Linked DNA regions of Homo sapiens. The protein of the gene in region 2 purifies or fractionates together with the protein of the main gene of each other region. This does not show direct contact. Each region holds a gene or a part of one and is shown on either strand. Other genes may lie near its edges.

Region 1 (3,500 bases), on a different chromosome or scaffold from region 2:
AGGAGAGAAGGAATGGGGGCCGGGTGCGGTGCCTCACGCCTGTAATCCCAGCACTTTGGGAGGCAGAGGGGTGGGTGGTTCACTTGAGGTCAGGAATTCGCGAACAGCCTGGCCAACACGACAAAACCCCACCTCTACTAAAAATACAAAAAATAGCCAGGTGTGGTGGCAGGAGCCTGTAATCCCGGCTACTCGGGAGGCTGAGGCAGGAGAATTGCTTGAACCCGGGAGGCAGAGGTTGCAGCAAGCCAAGATCGTGCTGCTGCACTCCAGCCTGGGCAACAGACCAAGACTCCGTCTAGAGAAAAAAAGAAGTGGGGCTGGGCGCGGTGGCTCACGCCTGTAATCCCAGCACTTTGGGAGGCTGAGGTGGGCAGATCACAAGGTCAGGAGATCGAGACCACCCTGGCTAACACGGTGAAACCCTGTCTATACTAAAAATACAAAAACAAAATTAGCCAGGCGTGGTGGTGGGCGCCTGTAGTCCCAGCTACTTGGGAGGCTGAGGCAGGAGAATGGTGTGAACCCAGGAGGCGGAGCTTGCAGTGAGCCAAGATCGCGCCACTGCACTCCAGCCTGGGCAACAGAGTGAGACTCTGTCTCAAAAAGAGAGACAGAAAAAAAAAATGTGGCGTTCAGAGACACAGCCCCTGGGCTGCCCACCTCTGGACTTATGACATGCAGGAAGAGCATGCTCTTGGGTTTTAAGCCATGCTGTGGAGGGGTTTCTGTTGCCCGTAGCCACCTCTAACCTGTCGCATGCCCTGACCTTGTGCCTGGCCCTCTGGCAAATGCTGTCTGGCCATCAGTGCACTGATTCCTCAAGCATGCTTCATGGAGTCAGGGCTCTCATGAACCAACTTGGCAGATGAGGTGACTGCAACACAAGGAAGTCCCCTGCCTGCAGTTACCTAACCAGACAGGGCAGAGCCCTGACCTCTAAGCCAGTAGTTCTCAGTCCTGGCTGTACATTAGATTTCCCTGGGGAGCATCTGAAAAGTGTCAAAGCCTAAGATTAGTTGAGTGAAAGTTTGGTGAGGAACAAGATAATATTTGCACTGTCTCAGGAAAGATGTCCCCAGGATACCTGCTAATCACAAAGGTGAAAAGAGAGGCTTTGAAGTGGAGGAATCTGGCAGGCAACACCTTGGCCAAGTGCTCCCAGTGAACACCACCAGTCATAGGAGACCTCCTGAGAGGAGGCACCAGGAAGAACACAGCACCCCTTCTGGTCTGTTCCTGCCAAAGATGCAGAACCTGAGTCTGCCCGTGAGGAGGCATTGGACAAACCCAAATGCTGGGACACTCTACAAAATACCTCGTCTACAATCCTCAGTGTCAAGATTGGCCGGGTGCAGTGGCTCAAGCCTGTAATCCCAGCACTTTGGGAGGCCGAGGCGGGTGGATCACGAGGTCAGGAGTTCGTGACCAGCCTGACCAACATAGTGAAACCCCGTCTCTACTAAAAAAAAATACAAAAATTAGCCAGGCACGGTGGCGCATGCCTGTAGTCCCAGCTACTCAGGAGGCTGAGGCAGAGAATCGCTTGAACCCAGGAGGTGGAGGCTGCAGCGAGCCAAGATCGCCCCACTGCACTCCAGCCCGGGCGACAGTGTGAGACTTCGTCTCAAAAAACAAAAAAACAAAAAAAAGTGGCCAGGTGCTGTGGCTCACGCCTGTAATCCCAGCACTTTGGGAGGCCAAGGCGGGCGGATCACAAGGTCAGGAGATCGAGACCATCCTGGCCAACATGGGGAAACCCCAGCTCTACTAAAAATACAAAAATTAGCCGGACATGGTGGCATATGCCTGTAATCCTAGCTACTCGGGAGGCTGAGGCAGGAGAATCACTTGAACTGGGGAGTCAGGTTGCAGTGAGCCAGGATCCCACCACTGCACTCCAGCCTGACGACAGAGACTCCATCTCAAAAAGAAAAAAAAAAATGTCAAGATCCTGAAAGTCAAGAAAAGACAGAGGAGCCACGTCAGCCTGAAAGAGACTGAGGGGACAACTCAATGCAATGTGTGATTCTAGACAGAATCCTTTGGCCATAAAGGACATTCATGGGACAAAGGCTGACTCCTGAATGGTGCCCTCTGGGGAGTGGATGAGAGTGATATATCAATTTTCATTTCCTGATTTTGCTGGATGTATTACAGTTTAAAAAGATTGTCATTTTTTTTTGTAGGAAATACACACTGAAGTATTTATTTGATTAAGTTTTTTTTTTTTTTTTTTTTTTTTTTGAGACGGACTCTTGCTCTGTCACCCAGGCTGGAGTGCAGTGGCATGATCTTGGCTCACTGCAACCTCTGCCTCCCGGGTTCAAGCGATTCTCCTGCCTCAGCCTCCCGAGTAGCTGGGATTACAGGCGCCTGCCACCAGGCCTGGCTAATTTTTGTATTTTTAGTAGAGACAGGGTTTTGCCATGTTCCCCAGGCTGGTCTCAAACTCCTGACCTCAAATGATCTTCCTGCCTCCAAGGCCTCCCACAGTGCTGAGATTACAGGCGTGAATCACCATGCCTGGCGTGAAGTATTTAGAGATATAGGGGCATCATGTCTACAACTGATTCTCAAATAGTTCAGAACAAATTAATATGTATATAGACAAAAAATGATAAAGCAAATGTGGTAAAATGCTAACATTTGGCCAAGTGCAGTGGCTCGCACCTGTAATCCTAGCACTTTGGGAGGCTGAGGCAGGCAGACTGTCTAAGCTCAGGAGTTCAAGACCACCTTGGGCAACATGATGAACCCCGTCTCCACTAAAACACAAAAAACTAGCTGGGCATGGTGGCACATGCCTGTGGTCCCAGCCACCTGGGGGGCTGAGGCATGAGAATCACCTGAACCCGGGAGGTGGAAGTTGCAGTGAGCTGAGACTGTGCCACTGCACTCCAGCAGCCTGGGTGACAGAGCAAGACTCTGTGTCCAAAAAAAAAAAAGAAAAAAAAGCTAACATTTGTGAAATATGTGAAAGGTACATAGGTATATAGGAGCTCTTTGTACTATTCTAAGTCTGAAATTATTTCAATATAAAAAGTCTCAAAATTGCCAATGCCCAAGTTTCATCCCAGATCAACTGATTTGGCTTTCTCTTGCGTGGCGGTGGGGGGGCGGTGAGGCACAGGGACCAGGTGATTCTGATATGCAGTTGGAGTGAAAATCCCCACACTGGCCACACCACCTCCTAATGCACACCCACTGGTGGCCAAGGGCGGACACCTGCATACCATCTACTATAGATCCAGGCCACCCACTCCACTGCCTACAGGGATTAGGGAGGCAACACAGGTGTGAGGAACTGGCCACAACGGGCCTGACAAATTTCACTAAGCTCAGCCCCTCACTGCCACAGGGGAATTTGGGCCCCAGAGGCCAGAGAATTTCTCACTTCTCCAAACAAAAGGGACATTTGGATTTTTGTGTTAAAAAACTTGAAATGTTGTCCACTTATCCAACCTTTAAAACATACTATATTGGGCAAGTGTGTGTGA
Region 2 (2,427 bases):
TGTACTGGCTGAAGGGTGGTGAGTGATGAGGGTATTGGTATATGAAATGAAATCAGAGAGCTAGGCAGGGGCCAGATTGTATAGGCCTTCACATTCTTTTTTTAAATGTAGTGGGAAGCTATTCCAGGTGTTTTAAACAGGGCCGTGCCATATATTTTAAAGATCTCTTTGGCTGTTGTGTGGGGAACGGATTGTAGGAACAGGTGGAAACCAGTTGGATTGTAGTAAGTAGTCCATGATAGCTGGACTAGACTAGTAGCAGAGAAATGGAAGAGGAGTGAACAGAAGCTAGCTGATAGACTGATGTAGGTGGAGAGAAAAGAATCAAGAAAGAACCCTGGTTTTTTTTGGTTTGAGTTCCTAGGTAGCTCAGATGTCCATTGAGCGGCTACAATGTGCCGGAGCTGTCCTAGGCCATTTGCTGAGCTGAGTTTTTTACTCACGGAGAGCTCCACTTCCAACAGACACAGTTCCTTCAGCCACTCACCTCCTTTTTGGCAGGGTTTACATCCTCAGGCAGCTCCTGATTCTGGTTTTTCAACAGAACTGCTATAGGGTAATATTTTGGCTCACTGTCATTAGAATTCAGGGAGAGGGTTGCATTCTTCATGTCCTAGGTAAGATAAGAATGTAGGCACAGGGAAAAGACTCCTCAGTGTCTGTGTGGTTACAGTTCTGAATGTGTATAATATTTAACATTTTGACTTATGCCACTTCACCCTCTGTAATCATCTTTGATAACAATGCTCCCCAAACCTGGCTGCATGTCAGAATCATCTGGGAATAGAAAATATTCAGATTTTGGGGTTGTTCTTGGGAAAGCTGATTCAGTAAGTCCAAGGCAAGTCCTGTATAGCTAGTTTGGCATACATCTTGTGTCTGGATCTCATTTGAATATTGGGATCACATACCTTCTCTTGGTACTTTTATTTAGCCCTGCATTTCCAGCCTTTAAATGACTTTAGGTTGTAGTCCTACTTAAATACAATTTAAAGATACTACATCAACATTAGCTTTGGAATCTGAGTTTGTAGAGCACAAAGGACAGAATTGCCAGATGGTTTGAACACCTGGTGCCATGCACTCCTCCTGAGGTTAAAGAACTGCTGGATTCCTGGCTAGAGGCTCCACTTCTTTTAACCATTAAAATAGGTGTAAATGGCCTAAGTTTCTGTGGACTTCACTGTCAGAAATGAATAAAAATGTCATTTGGGTTAGAAGCTTATTTCTGAAAAATACTGCCAATGACTTTAATCTCTCCTTAAACGGCAGAGTTGAATAATAAAACAAATATTCATTTTTTTGTTGTTGTGTTTTTGAGACGGACTCTCGCTCTGTTGCCCAGGCTGGAGTGCAGTGGTGCCATCTCAGCTCACAGCAACTTCCGCTTCCTGGGTTCAAGCAGTTCTCCTGTCTCAGCCTCCCGAGTAGCTGGGACTACAGGCGCATGCCACCACGGCCGGCTAATTTTCATATTTTTAGTAGAGACGGGGTTTCACCATATTAGTCAGGCTGGTCTCAAACTCCTGACCTTAGGTGATCCACCCGCCTTGGCCTCCCAAAGTGCTGGGATTACAGGCATGAGCCACCGCGCCCGGCCCCATTTTTGTTGTTTTTACACAGCAAGTCTGTTTGAAAATCTGGAAGTCAGGAAAATAAGGAACTTGGCTCTGAGACCTGCTTTTCTATTGATTACAAAAAGTCTTTACATCAAAACAGACAACTATGGTAATACTAAGGACATGAGTTTTGCCTGTGAGCATCTGTAGCATTTGTGTGTTCTCTGGCTCTGGTTGCCCATGTGGCTGGCTTCTCCCAAGAGCGAACCCGACTCACAGCAGTGATTCGCATGATAGCAGCAGCATCTCCCAGCTCTTCTTTTAATTGTTCATATGTTTTTCCTGCCTGAGAAGAAGAGAGAGAAAACACAGGATGAGGTCTTTCTTATAGGGGAGGGACATCTTAGGTCTGGTCTGTGTCTTCAGGAAAAGCAAAAGAGCCAGGGAGTCAGAAGACATTTCAAGGATAAGTAAAAATGAAAATCCCCCCTTTTGGGTCCATGCAGGCTTGAAAGGTGCTTAAACATAACGCACATTCTTTGATGGTAACCCCTCAGTCCTCCCAATAAGATTTAAGAAAGAGCAGTTGAAGGCCAGGCACAGTGGCTCATGCCTGTAATCCCAGCACTTTGGGAGGCTGAGGCGGGTGGATCACCTGAGGTCAGGGGTTCAAGACTAGCCTGACTAACATGGTGAAACCCCATCTCTACTAAAAATAGAAAAATTAGCTGGGCATGGTGGTGCATGCCTATAATCCCAGCTACTTGGGAGGCTGAGGCAGGAGAATTGCTTGAACCCAGGAGGTAGAGGTTGCAGTGAGCCGAGATTGTGCCATTACACTCCAGCCTGGACAACAAGAGCGAAATTC

What was found.
Region 1: the proteins of AVIL (region 2) and WDR62 purify together in Homo sapiens (affinity purification with mass spectrometry; one large-scale study listed by BioGRID and IntAct). This does not show direct contact.

The regions. Positions count from the first base shown.
Region 1 is NC_000019.10:36,061,397-36,064,896, reverse strand, and holds part of WDR62 (WD repeat-containing protein 62), read right to left. Parts: intron 1-3,500. UniProt on the Homo sapiens protein: Required for cerebral cortical development. Plays a role in neuronal proliferation and migration.
Region 2 is NC_000012.12:57,799,308-57,801,734, forward strand, and holds part of AVIL (advillin), read right to left. Parts: intron 1,906-2,427; coding exon 1,837-1,905; intron 614-1,836; coding exon 488-613; intron 1-487.